Regions from separate parts of the Homo sapiens genome. Here region 1 is linked to region 2. The links come from fine-mapping of genetic effects on gene expression. Tissue or cell type: monocytes after LPS. Region 2 holds a variant in brackets; the other region holds the start of a gene. All regions are shown on one strand. Distances are between the middles of the regions.

What was found. PIP is the estimated chance that this variant, and not a neighbour inherited with it, causes the effect.
Region 1: it holds the start of RAP1GDS1, and the variant in region 2 is fine-mapped to the expression of RAP1GDS1 in monocytes after LPS (Fairfax 2014, PIP 0.95). The same link has a PIP of 0.9 or more in B cells, CD8 T cells, NK cells, monocytes, monocytes after interferon gamma and transverse colon.

What each region holds. Positions count from the first base shown.
Region 1 is chr4:98,258,624-98,265,077 of GRCh38, forward strand. It overlaps RAP1GDS1 (Rap1 GTPase-GDP dissociation stimulator 1), which reads left to right and starts at 2,761. Exons shown (of 15, transcript NM_001100427.2): 1 at 2,761-2,946. The coding sequence starts at 2,943. RefSeq lists enhancers at 2,002-2,301, 2,053-2,615 and silencers at 2,582-2,881, 2,982-3,051.
Region 2 is chr4:98,437,597-98,445,883 of GRCh38, forward strand. It overlaps RAP1GDS1 (Rap1 GTPase-GDP dissociation stimulator 1), which reads left to right. Exons shown (of 15, transcript NM_001100427.2): 15 at 4,394-6,262. The coding sequence ends at 4,521. Among named protein-coding and RNA genes, the nearest start is that of RAP1GDS1, 180 kb to the left of the region's middle. The variant G/A (reference allele first, on the strand shown) is at 4,653.

The DNA.
Region 1 (6,454 bases), 180 kb before region 2:
TAAGCCTGAACAATCCTTTGGTTTTAATTGGCAGGAAGGCTAAGGAGATGGCTTGTAGATTGAAGTAGAACAAAAAAGGCACTTTAACTAGTGTCAGATGGGAAATGAGAAAGCCACTTCAGCTGCTTTTGCTAATTTCAACGCTTACATCCAAATAAATGATAGAAGATACTCCATGAAATTATTATAATATGTAATTAGATAAGGAAGTAGGAAAAATAAAGCAAGTTAACTTGACAATCTGGAAGAGATTAATGAGTGTTAAGGAGAGATGAACAAAAAATGATGAGCAGCAATGCAAAGGCCCAGGCTGGTCTTCTGGAGGAGTAATAAAATTAATGTGTAACATGGCCGATGTGGGGGCAGTGAGGGGCCCTGAGGGTGGGGTCTGCATTGGTGTATTATGGGTTGAATTGTGTACCCCTCCCGGATTCTTTTTTTTTATTTTTATTTTTTTTGAGACAGGGTCTTGCTCTGTGGCCCAGGCTGGAGTGCAGTGGTGCAATCTCAGCTCACTGCAACCTCCGCCTCCCGGGTTCAAGCGATTCTCCTGCCTCAGCCTCCCAAGTAGCTGGGATTACAGACACGTGCCACCATGCCCAGCTAATTTATTTATTTTATTTATTTTTTAGTAGAAATAGGGTTTTGCCATGTTGGCCAGGCTGATCTCCAGCTCCTGACTTAAGTGATCTGCCCTCCTGAGCCTCCCAAAGTGTTAGGATTACAGGCGTGAGCCACTGTGCCTGGCCCTGGCTAATTTTTTGTATTTTTAGTTAGAGATGGGGTTTCGTCATGTTGGCCAGGCTGGCCCTATTCATATGTAGAAGTCCTAACCCTTAGTCCCTTAGAATGTGACCTGATTTGGAAATAGGGTCATTGCAGATATAATTAACGTCCATGAGGTCATACTGGAGGATGGTTCGCCCCTAATCCGTTATGACTGCTGTTCTTATTAAAAAGGGAAATTTGAACACACAAGCACACTGGGAGAACAGCCATGTTCAGATTGGAGTTACGCTACCATATGCCAAGAAACTACCAGAAGCTAGGAGAGGCATGGACGAGATCCCTCCCCAGTGCCCTCAGAGGGAGTACAGCCCTGCCTACACCTTGATTTCAAACTTCTGGCCTCCAGAATTGTGAGATAATAATTTGTTGTTTTAAGTCACCCAATTTGTGGTATGTTACGGCAGCCCTAGGGAACTAATGTAGTGCGATTATTTTAAGAGGCAAACAAGAAGAACATCCTAAGAGTGAGGTGCCTGATAGTCTCATGCATCAGAAAAGTCCCATATATTTGACTTCAGCAGTTAAATTGTATTTTCCTGTTTTACCAAACCTTTTTAATTATCGTTTCTTGCTGTAGAAAAATCACATAAAATCTGCTCTTTGCTTAACAAATTACAGGGTCGCTTCTGATTTGTGTGCTCGAAATACTAGTCACCAAGCAGAAACTGATGACTGTGAGAATAGGCGACTAATTAACAAACAAACAAAAAAAGCCCTTTCTCAACATTGGATTGACCGAGTGAAAGTTGACAGGGGAAAGACACCTCGATTCAGCCATCTTTCTCCAACAGGTTGTACTGCTGACTGCACAGTGTCCCCTGAAGGACTCCGGTCGCTGTAGCCTTGGAGAGCGACCAGATTCCTCACCCCACTCAGGAGGAGCCAGGGCAAGATTAGGGTGCAGAGAAATCGGTTTCCTCCAGCCTCCTACCCCAGGGAAGAGGACCGAAGCCAGCCCCGGCCTCACGTGCATGCCCAGTCGGGAGGACGCCCTCAGTGGGAGAGCCCTGCTCAGGTTCTCCCCGAGGCCGAGGTGGTGGTGGGAGCGGGCGGTGGCCCCGGGATCAAAGGACCTCCGCCGGGTTAGCTTTGGCAGTGCCGCAGCCAACCCAGCAGGACGCTTATTTTCAAGCCTGGGGAACGTAGTTCCTCCCGCTTTCACAGCAGGATGGAGCCCGACGGCACCCCGGTTAAAGGGCCTTTCCAGAGCCCTCCGGGGAACGGAAGGCCGCGCTCCTCCGGGAGGGAGAACGACACACTCTTCGAGGAAATCCTGGGGCGGGCGCTCTCCTCGCTGCCGGGACCTTTGTTTCTAAGCTGGCCACAGCTAGAGCAGCCTTAAGTGTCCCAATGACACGCCTGCTATCGAGCGCCCTCCCGGCGGCCCCTCCTCAGCCAGCTGCCCAGCGGGCGTCCTCAGGTGTCCCCAAGAGGCGCAGGCCTAGTCGCCTACACGTCCTTTCCAACTTCGTCAGCTCTGGCTTCCCACCACCCCTCCCGGCTCTGCGGCGGCCCAGCCTCTTCTCCGGTTAATTCCGGCCTGTGCGGCCCGGTCGTCCCGTAAAGAAGGCAAGCCCGGGTTCCGGGTGAGGGGTTGGTGGGTCAGGGTGGGAAAGCAAGGCAGCGGTGAGTCCTCTGCTAGCAGATCGGGCTCAATATCCCCATTCCCTGTTTTCTCCGGGCCCGCCCTCCGCCTCTCAGGCGGCCGCCATGAAGATCCTCTGCCGCGGCTGCAGCCGGTCTGCAAACACACGCCCACCCGCACGCTTAGCCTCGCTCGCCACAGAGGGAGGGGTGGAAAAGGCACTGAGCATGCTCGGTGGGGAGGGCGGGGCGCTCGTGGGCTGCGAGTCGGGGCCGGAGCTCTTCAGGCCGGCTCCCGCGCCTCCGCCGCCCGCCCGCTCGGAGCCGCGCCCGCCGCAGGCTGCGCCCGCCAGTCCCGCCCCGCCCCGCCCCGCCCCGCCCCCCGCCGCTCGTCCCCGCCGCGGCCGCGCCGCCTGCAGCAGCACCAGCTGCTCCTCCCCGGCGGCCGCCCCCCGCGGGTCCCTCCCTGGCTGCGGGAGAGACGGAGGTAGAGGGAGGACACAGAGCCGCGCCGCCCGCACCACAGACCTTCGCCTCGCCCCGCCGGTTCCTCACCCTCGGGGAGCAACATGGGTAAGTCATCCTTCCTCCGCCGTCATCGCCTGACATTTTTTTCTTTCTCGGCGTGCTGCAGGGTGGGAAGCATTTCTCGCGCAAAGTTGCCGGATTTCTCCAGTCCCCGGGTGTGAGACGGTGGCTGTTCCTCCGGGGAGAGTCGGCGCACGCGGAACGCACGCCGGGTGCCGGGGCTGGGAGGGTCCCGAGCGCGGGCTGGGGTGGGGTCGGCCGCGGGCCGGACCGCCGCCCGGCTCCCCGGCACCTCGCAGCCTCGCCTCCCCTCCTCCATTCTTCCTGCCGGTGCCCGGGCACCACGGAGCCTGCCTCGCGGGCTCGCATCTGCAGCTCCATCCCCGTTTCTCCAGAGGCCGCCCGCTTCCTTTTCCCCCGCGTGTACTGAGCTCGAGGCTCGGGTCCGACCACTACCACTTCGTGTAACTTCCTTCTCTGTCAGTGCGACCTTTCCCCGTCGTGGAGACTCCTCATCCCGGGCGGGGAAGTGGAAGCAAGTAGTTTGTGAGGGAGATCTTACAACCTGCACGGAAATTATTTTCCAAGGGGGAGAGCGGACAGCCTCATAGGTTGAAAGGATGACTTGTCAGAGGCCACGAGGAACGTGAGGCAGGATAGAGCCGCTAGCTGTTGAATTAGTGCTGGGTGACTACAGTGTGCAATATTCCCGTGCCCAGCCTATTTTCTGGATTCCTTCGTCCGTCTTCTGTAGCAGGAAACTGCGCCCTGTAACGTTGTTACCGAACTTACATGGTAGTTATTCTTTCCCAGCTTCCTCCTGTCTAATCTGCATAATCTGATTTTAGTTCCTTTGTATTTATAGTTAATCTGAAGAGATTGGTTTGGATGAGAGATTTAAGAGCAAATATGTTTTATAAAACGATATATACATTTGACCTAATTTTTTTACATCATCTATTGCTTAACTGTTACATTCAGTAATCACAGAAACGTCTGATGAATGCTGTCATGTAATTAAGAGCTCAAAGTTTCTTTTAATAGTAGCGACTTGTACTAAGTTCCCCAGTTTGCTTCCACTCCTGTCTGTCATAATTTCCTCTTTTTAAAATTTGCTCCCTTGGCATCTGTCAGCTGGGACTTTTCCCACCCCTTCTGTGCGAGTTATTTAAAGCTTGAGATGAATGTGGTCCTTTCATCTGTTAATACAGTGCTCAACACGTTCAGAGTTAGGTGGTGCAACTCAGAATCTTCAAGAAGTATCTAAACCTGGGAATGGTGTCCATAGAGTTTTCTGGAACAGCAAATGCTTCAGGCTTTGATCCCGACCTTTGGCCATATATCTGGAAGAGGCCAGGGTTGACGGAGGAGGTGGTATGAATCAAAAAAGGTCTAGGGCTCTGAATTTTATTTTCAGTTGTTTTTTCTTTTTAACGTGAGTACTCGATATGCTGAACAAATTTCTGTAAAAATTGGGTGGCCCATTTATGCGTGTCTGCCTTTCTCTTAAAGTAGATTTTTAAATAGGTATTATATCAGATTATTGGACAAGCTGTATATTTCCGTCGAACATACACACGTTTATGTGTGTTCCCTTTGAACATACACAGATAAAATACACTTTGAAATAAAATTCCTTTGAACATACATACACAGATAAGTGTGTGTATGTTCAAAGGAAATATACAGTATGTCCAATAACCCTATCTGATATTGGACTGTAAGTTCAAGTTTGGCTTGCAAAATATATTTTCCCATGTTTCCAGGTGAGCCTTAAACAATCCATTTAACATTTTAGCTTACATGTTAAATCCGTACTTTTTCAGTGGAAAAAATCCAATTCCGTTACAACACTGGTGAATAAAAATACCTAAAAGAAATTATCTACTTAAAAATAATCTTCAAAATCTTGAGTGCTATTGCTTGATTTTTAAAAAGGGCCAAATAGAAACCTATCTCTCATTTTGAAGCCATCTCTGATACTCTTTGGTTAATCTGTCTCTTCATAAGCACTGTTTGTACCTTGTTAGAAGCTTTTTAGCACTTACGTAATCTACCATATAATAAAGTTGTTTATGTGTGTGCTGTGCATTTAATCATGAGTCCCAGAAGATGAAAAGTGTCTTATTATTTTTTGTGTTCCCCACAGTGCTTTTCAAATAGAAATTCAGTAAATCTTTGGCAAATTGTTGAACTTAAAGCCACCTATTATTTTCAACTTTTGAACCTGAAGATATAGTCTTCATCTGAACAAACATTTGGGTTGGTACATATTATCTAGTTGGGGGATAAGCAGAAACAGAAAGGTATAATTGTACCATGCCTCCCAGTACACTGTAGGTTGGTTTTGAGTCAACCTCAGGCAATCTGTTTCCTTCTAAACTCTCTTCAATGGTAAGGCAGTTTCATGTATGATCAGTAGGTACATATGATAATTTAAAATTGAAACCTTGGGGAACAGTTTTATATCTGGGCCAAGGAAGTTAGTATAACAATTCATGTACACATAAGAAGGTAGAAGGTATACTGGTTAATGATGAGGGGAGGGAGAAGTGCTTTTTAATTTGTCTCAAGAAATAAATAAGGTTGATTTTTAAAGATAGTCTCAGCCGGGCGCGCACTTTGGGAGGCCGAGGCGGGCGGATCACCTGAGGTCAGGAGTTGGAGACCAGCCTGACTAACATGGTAAAACCCTGTCTCTACTAAAAATACAAAAAAACAATTAGCCGGGTGTGGTGGCGGGCGCCTGTAATCCCAGCTGTTTGGGAGGCTGAGGCAGGAGAATCACTTGAACCCGGGAGGCGGAGTTTGCAGTGAGCCGAGATCATGCCATTGCACTCCAGCCTGGGCAACAAGAGGGAAACTCTGTCTCAAAAAAAATATATATATATATTCTCATGGCAATAATTTCCTACACAAGAGAGTGAAAGAAAAGTCCTATATAACTTTATGGCCATAGCTACTATTTTATGTATATGTCATATTTCAGATTCAACATACATTTAGTGTTTGTTGGATATCAACTGTGCAGTGTACTGTACTACAGTGTACTGGGAGGACAAAGATAAAAAGATATTCATGTTTCACATTTATAATCTTAGCAGGAACAATATGACACATACACAAATTATAATAGAAGTAAAAGTATAAGTTATATAAAAGACCTTTACATATATTATAGATTCAGAGAATGGAGAGAACGTTTTAGAGAAATGGTGTTATTTGAACCAAAGGTGGGTTAAACTTCTTAAAGGTAGAAATGAGACTGTTAATCAGAATGGAGTTGGTCTGGGGTTGGAAGAGAAATGACATAAATGAAGATAGATAGGAAACATTTTATGAATTTCCAGGATATGATTAAACAGCATTGTTTGGCTAGAGCAAAAGGTAAGGAAATAGTGGGTAACAGACATGAAAAAGTAGTACAGTAATAGCTAATGACCAGATAATGTAGGATCTAAAATGCCAAGCTGAAGAATTTTAATCTGACTTACCTATTGAGAGACCACTAAACATTTTTATGTAGTTAAGTGATGGATCACATCTGTGGTAT
Region 2 (8,287 bases):
AGCCTGGCGAACATGGTGAAACCCTGTCTCTACTAAAAACACAAAAATTAGCCGGGAGTGGTGGCACACGCCTGTAGTCCCAGCTACTCAGAAGGCTGAGGCAAGACAATCGCTTGAACCTGGAAGGCAGAGGTTGTAGCTGAGAGATTGTGCCACTGTACTTCCAGACTAGGCAACAGAACAAGACTCTGTCTCAAAAAAAAAAAAAAAATTTTTTTTTTCAACAAATCATTGGTATATCTTCTATGGACATTGGCATATCTTGGTATATGTTCTATGGACACCTGAAAAGAGTGTGTATTATGCAGTTATTGGGTACTGTTGTATAAATGTGAATTTGATTCTGTTGGTACTAGTGTCAAGTTTCCTTTATTCTTGCTGGTTTTGCAGTTAATTGTTCTGTCAATTGTCGAGAGGAAGGGTGTTGAAGTCTCCCACTGTAGATTTACCTATTTCTCCTTTCAGTTCTGTCAATTTTTGCTTAACATAATTTTCAGCTCTGTTGTTAGGTACCTACACCTTTAGGATTGCTGTGCTTTCTTAAGGGATTGACCCTTTTATCATTATATAGTGTACCTCTCTCTGGTATTTTTCTTTGCTCTCGTCAACTTTATCTGACTTTAACATAGCTACTTCTGCTTGTTTTTTTATTATTACTATTTTATTTTCTTTCATGTGCCACTACAAGAAGCCATCCTACTTTCTTTTGAATAACATTCACATGATCTTTTCTCACTCTTTTAGTTTCAATCTGCTGTATTTGAAGTGAGTTTCCTGTATACAGCACAAAGTTGTCATTTTCTAATCTACTCTACCAGTCCCTTTTGTGTATTTAGACCATTTACATTTAATGGATGACTGATATGGCTTAAGTGTGCAATCTTATTTTTGTTTTCTGTTTGTCACATTTCTTCTTTATTTCTGACTTCCTATGGGTTAAACATTTTTTAATCATTTACATTTATTCTTCCATATATATATATATATATATATCTTTTTTTTTTTTTTTTTTTTGAGACAGAGTCTTACTCTGTCACCCAGGCTGGAGTGCAGTGGCGTGATTTTGGCACACTGCAACTTCTTCCTCCAGGGTTCAAGTGATTCTCATGCCTCAGCCTCCCGAGTAGCTGGGATTACAGATGCCTGCCACATCACACCTGGCTAATTTTTGTATTTTTAGTACAGGCGGGGTTTCACTATGTTGCCCAGGCTGATACTGAACTCCTGACCACCCGTCAGGGTGATCCACCTGCCTTGGCCTCCCAAAGTGCTGGGATTACAGGTGTGAGCCACCACGCCCAGCCTCTCACGTATATCATTCTTAAATATTTCTTCTACATATATTTAGAATCACGTTAGACAGTGTTACAACTTTTCTTTCAACCACCAAACATATTTCAGAAAACTCTTTGAAAGAGAAGGGAAGTCTATCGTATTTACGCACATTTTTAGATTTCTTATTTTTGTTATAATCATTCCCTTTCTGTTTAGAGAACTTCCTTTAGCCATACTGCTAGCAACAGATTTTTAGCCAAAAAAAATTTTTTTCATTCATAATGAAAGGGAAATGACATTGTCAAATGACAGAAAATGGGTATAGGATTCTGGGTTCACAGTTCTTTTCTTTCTTTACTTGAAAACTATTGTGCCACTTTTTTCTAGCCTCCCTGGTTTCTGATGAGAAATCCATTGTGTTCTTATGTGTTTTATTCCCCTGTAGGTAAGGTTTCATTTTTGTCTCTCAAGACTTTCTTTGCGTTTAGTATTCAGAAGTTTAACTATGATGTGTCTTGGCATGGATTTCTTTGGGTTTATCCTGTTTGAGTTTGCTCAGCTTCTTGAATTGATAGGTTTATGTCTTTTGCTAAATTTGAGAAGTTTTGACTGTTACTTCTTCAGGTACTTTTCAGCCCCATTCTATCCACTCTTTCCAGACCTTTGTTGACACTAATGTGAGATCTTTAATTATAGTCTTGTAGGTCCCTGAGGTTTTGTTCTTTTTTACCCACAGATTATTTTCTTTCTGTTGTACAGACTGAGTAATTTCTATTGTTTTATCTTGGAAGTTCTCTGATTATTTCCCTTGTCCCCTCTATTCTGATGTTGAACCTGTTTTTATTTCAGTTATATATTTTAGTTAAAAATTTCCATTTGCTTCTTCTTTATATCTTTTATTTCCTTGCAGAGACTTTGAGTCTCTTCCATTTGTTTAAGCATTTTTAGAATTGTGGTAAAACATACAAAACATAAAATTTACTGTTTTAACCATTTTTAAGTATACAGTTTAATGGCATTAAGGACATTCACATTGCTGTGCAATCATCACCAGCATCCATCTCCAGAACCACCTTCATTTTCCCAAACTGAAACTCTGTACTCATTAACCAATAACTCCCCATTTACCCCTCCCCACAGCCTCTGGCAATCACCATTTATTTTGTGTCTCCATCATCTGACAACTCTAGTCACCACATATATGTGGAATAAGAAACTCCTGTCCTTTTTTGTCTAGCTTATTTTACTTAGGTCTTTAAGGCTTATCTGCATTGTAGGCGTGTCAGAATTTCATTTCCTTTTAAAGCTGAATAATTTTCCATCATATGTATATATCACATTTTGTTTATCCATTCATCAATCCATGGACATTTGGGCCATTTCCACCTTTTGGCTTTTGTGAATAATGCTGCTGTGAACATTGGTATGCAAATATCTCTGAGCCTCTGCTTTTAATTATTTTTGATATATACTCAGAAGTGGAATTACTAGATCATATGGTCATTCAATGTTTAATTTTTTTATTAAATACTGTTTTTACTAATTAAATACTGTCATACTCTTTTTCACAGTGGCTGGACCATTGTACATTTCTTCCAGCAGTACACATGGATTATCATTTCTCAACATCCTCACCAATATTTGCTGTGTTTTAGTAATGGCCAAACTAATGAGTGTGAGGTGGCATCTTACTGTGGTTTTTATTTGCGTTTCCCTAATGATTACTGATGGGAATCTTTTTATGTGTTTGTGGGCCATTTGTATATCTTCTTTGGAGAAATGTCTATTCAAGTCTTTGCCCATTTTTAGAATTGAAGGGTGTTGTTGTTGTTGTTGTTGAATTGTAAGAGTTTTGTTTTTTTTGAGACGGAGTTTCGCACTTGTTGCCCAGGCTGCAGTGCAATGGTGCAATCTCGGCTCACCGTAACTTCCACCTCCCAGGTTCAAGCGATTCTCCTGCCTCAGCCTCCTGAGTAGCTGGGATTATAGGCATGCACCACCTGTAGAGATGGGGTTTCTCCATGTTGGTCAGGCTGGTCTCAAACTCCCGACCTCAGGTGATCCACCCACCTTGGCCTCCCAAAGTGCTGGGATAACAGGCGTGAGCCACCACGCCTGGCCCAAGTTGTAGGATTTTGTACCAGTACCCCACTATCTTGATTATTGTAGCTTTGTAGTAAGTTTTGATATCAGTTAGTATGAGAACTCCAGCTTTGTTCATTTTCAAGATTGTTTTGGAGATTTAGGGTCCCTTGAGATTCCATATGAATTTTAGGATGGATTTTTCTATTACTACTAAAAACACTGGTTCATTGGTTTATGTCAGTCATATCAAAATAAACACATCAGTTTCAGTAGTACTGATTACATTAAGCTTATTAGACTTCACTCATCCCATATAACAGTTCTCAGAGTCCTAACAGGAATCCTATATTTTCTTGTAATTGAAGTTAAATAGAGAAAGCAAGTCAGAAAGAAGAGGACAAAAAATCTAAAAGGGAGTCCAGTGTCACAGAAATTTGTTGAAGGATATGAAGTATAAACTTTTCTTTTGCCACAAAATTAATTTGAAACATATCCTAAGCTTTTTGGTAAGTCATTGGACTTCATATTTGAACTGGTGATAGGGTTGTATGTAACCAAACCTTGAGATCATACAGTGAGCTGTGTTTAATTATAACTCATTATTGTAATTAATCTTACATTGTAGAACTTGACGTCTCGTTTTTCTTTTTAAAAATTGGGCAAGTAGCTGTGCAGTGGCTCATGACTGTCATCCCAGCTACTTGGGAGACTGAGCAGGATGAATCCCTTGAGGCTAGGAGTTTGAGGCTGCAGTAAGCTGTGACCATGCCACTGTACTCAAACCTGGGCAGCAGAGCAAGTCCCCATCTTTAAAATTTTTTCCTTTAATTTAAAAAAAAGTAAAGTTTTTATGATTTTTTTAAATTATAATACATTTCTAAGAAAGACATTGCTAGGCTACTGCTATGTCTTTTTCCAGAATTGTTTCTAGTTTTATAAGCTTAGTCTTGTCAAAATAAACATTTTGGTATATGTTTTGGATAGACTTAGAACAACCTAACAGAATCATATCTGTTATTTTTTTGTCTTCCAGAATGTCTACACAAGGAAGTACAGGATTTGGCTTTTCTAGATGTCGTATCCAAACTTCGCAGTCATGAGAACAAAAGTGTTGCCCAGCAGGCCTCTCTCACAGAGCAGAGACTTACTGTGGAAAGCTGAGAACTGCCCGATACACGGCATCATCCCATCTCTAATTTCCCCTCTGTCCTCCATCCAGCGGCTTCTTCCGCTTCATTCTCTACCATACCACTTGTGCATGCATGTGATGTTCTAATACCAATTGAAGAACC[G/A]CTGTAGGTACCTCCCTAATAAGATTTCTAAACCTATAGTTAGTGTGATCATGACTTTGTCAAAGGCAAGTCTCCACCCATAACCGTTCTCTTGTATTCCTGTTGCTTGAGCTACATTAAGTAGAATGTGCATGTTGTAGTCCTATGATGATGTAAACTTGGTACTACATAATGACTTGCTCCACACATGCAGTAAACTACATAATGATGTACTGGTAAACTAGAAACAAAGAATGCAGCAGGATCTGTCTAGCTTATTAAAGATGAAACTGAATTGGAAAAATAGCTCCATTTTTTGGTGCTTGGGAAGCACAGTGACCAAAAAAGTTGTATGGCTGCTTATTCATTAGTCTTTCCTACTGATGTCAAATCCATGGTACCTAGAGTTAAATAAAATTCCAATGCTCTTACTCTTTAACTTCTGGTTTCTCCTTTTTCCTTTTTAGACTATTGAAACTGCCACAAACTTGGCAAGACTTTCTGAGGTTTCTGATTCCATATTTAATTGACTATTATCAATAGCCTGATATTGAAAAACATTTGTAGTTTTCAGTGTGAAACTAAGGGGTTGAAGAATCACTATTACAATCCCTATTACAGAGCATTTCGGGTTTTGCTTGTATTTTAGATTCTGATACATACGCTGTTTCACTCAGGAACTACTTCTACCAGTTAATCAGCATTATCCAGCACTTGTCTTTAAAATTCATTTGGCGCTTGTTTGTTTTCAACTGAGGAAATTGAGTATAGTTCATTGAAGAATGGAATTTTTTTTTTTTTTTTTTTTTTTGCTGTTTTTCATCATTCAGCTAGAAAGTGAGAAGTTTTATCTTCCATAGTCCTTTTAAATCTTATGTTAGAACTAGCAGGACGTAGGTGGAAAGATGAAGAAATAAGCTTGTCTAGACTAAAGAAAGGAAAGCAGGTTATAAAAGCCATAGTAGCCAGTCCAGTTCATTCTGCAGATGGCCCCATACCAATCGCTGTTAGAGTTTGCCACCTCCACTTTCCCACTGAGAACTGCAGCAATTTTAAAGGATATGAGAAAGCCAAGACTCAAGAGATGAGAAGACCCCCTTGGCGAAATATAGTGTACTCTTCACTGCCACTGCCACCACCAAATGGGTTTTTAGAGCTTTGAAACACAATCTTTGTAAATTAATCAAAACCTCCCTGTGACCCACCTGCCTTCTCCCCATACCCAAATTTGACCACTACTGGCCTAAAAGGCAAGATGGGCTTCGATATAGAAGGACTGCAAGACAGTAGAAAGGGCTGCCACGGAGGTGACAGTAGCTCCTTCCTCTCCAACATGTGATGCTACACATCTCTGTGGATAATCTAAGTTGGACTTTTGACTCTAAAACAGCTATAATCCAAGAAAGTTAAATTCTAATGGAGGTAAAGAATCTTGACTGATTGTTCCCTTTGATGTCCAAATAAGGGAACTATTGTGAGTACGTATGCTACACTTACTATAAGAATGATACTGTTTGTTGTCTTTCTCCTGGGCTGGATAGTGGACTATATTTTATTACAGGCTTTGAAAGACATCTGTAATGTTGCATATCTGTTCATATTAATAACTTAATAAATAGTATATGAAGCTATAATGGCATCATTTGGTTTGTTTGTATATTTTGTCTCTATTTCCAGCTCCTAGAATAAGGCTTGCTATTGATGTTCAACAAATATTTGTTGACTGAATGAATGAATCCTGCATCCATGAAGTTTCCAGACTGCCTGAACTAATTCCAGAAAGATAGACTGACTGACTGATAGAAAGTTTGAGATTTGATAGTTTGTCTGACTTTAGGGAAAAAATTTTAACAAAAGCATCCTAAAATCGTAAATGTGAGAGAAGTTACCATCTAGGCCAGCTGCCAGCCATCAATTTGCTAATATGCTAGGAACTCCCATCTCCAGCAAAATAAAGTGCAATTCAAAGTACTCATCATTGTACGGAAAGACCAGAAGGCTGTGCCCTTATCACAGGGGCTACCAAATTAGATGGTACACTGATGTGCCATTGCAGTGGATGGGAGAGTCTACAGACTGTACTCTCGCTTATCTCCTGCTACTAAATCTTAGTCCTAGAGGCCACTATTTATTAAGTTAGTTTGCTACCCACTAAGAGTACATTCTAAGGGAGACAACAGGAGGGAAGAACAGCACAACAAAGCTTTAACTGTCAATCTTGAGCCAGTACTAGAACATAGATGAAAAGGGCAGGAATACAAGCAAAGAAGATGCCTGAGTGCAATGCACTAGAATATACCCCTTTCCCCCCAACCCCATTAGCAACTTGGAGTCATGCCAGCCCACCCACCTAGACCATAACCTCATTGTGCTCAAAGCAAACACTAGCCCATAACCCAGTGTTTTCCATGATAAAAACATGTTTTGAGCATACTGTCTGATAAGAATGGAGACATAGAAGAAAACTTTTTCATCTAAAATGATTTCTTGAATAGAATGCAGTTCTCATATGCAAGCATTAGTCTGAAGTGTTCTGAAAAATGCTACATGTGAAGAATTCAAAAAGAAATGCTCTTTGTTATAATTAGGAGGCTTATTATCTAATTCTCTTGAACATACTGGGTGAGGATATCTAGACATTAAGACATTTAGGTGAGCATTACCCTTTGTATCCAGCTGTTACTGGAATCAGTAAGCTTAAAAGCCACTTAACATTAGGACGCTATAACATTTGTATTACACAAGTGTCTATTAAAAAGCATGTAATAATATTTGGGATGAATCTTTATAGCTGTAGCCAGGAAAACTGAGGTCTTTTTTCACAGGTGTGATCTCTAACTTTGCCTATATACATATAAATAATATGCCATGTAACTTCACTCTGTCGTCCAGGCTGGAGTGCAGTGGCACGATCTTGCTCACTGCAACCTCCGCTTTCCAGGTTCAAGTGATTCTCCTGTCCCAGCCTCCCAAGTAGCTGGGATTACAGGCATGTGCTCTGACGCCTGGTTAATTTTTGTATTTTTAGTGGAGACAGGGTTTTACCATGTTGACCAGGCTGGTCTTGAACTCCTGACCTCAAGTGATCCACCCGCCTCGGCCTCCCAAAGTGTTGGGATTACAGGCGTATGTTTTATAGGTGTGTCTGACTCAAGTTATGTACTTTAAAAGGGTGATACAGTGCAAAGAGTGTGGTCTTTGGATGCTGTCTAATCTATAGTCATATCCTGGGTCTGTTACATACTAGCTGTGTGACCATAGCCAAGTTACTTAAACTCTTTGGGCCTGATTTCTCAATATGACAAGTTTAATAATCCCTACTTCCCTTAGGATTTTCATGACAATTGAACTTTTAGACGTTCAAGACAAGGTGAGATGGAATTGTGATATCTTAGGGCCTAACCTATATACTCCTCTCTCACTGCTGCAGGATTCCCAACTAAAAGGATTCAAAAAACAACCCCCAAACAGCAGACAGTATGCCTATTAATAGTTTGTAATGTAGAAACAAAATGGCTCACACCTGTAATCCCAACACTTTGGGAGGCTGAGGCGTGTAGGTCACTTGAGGTCAGGAGTTCAAGACCAGCCTGGTCAACATGGTGAAACCCTGTCTCCACTAAAAATACAAAAATTAACCAGGCATCAGGGTGCAC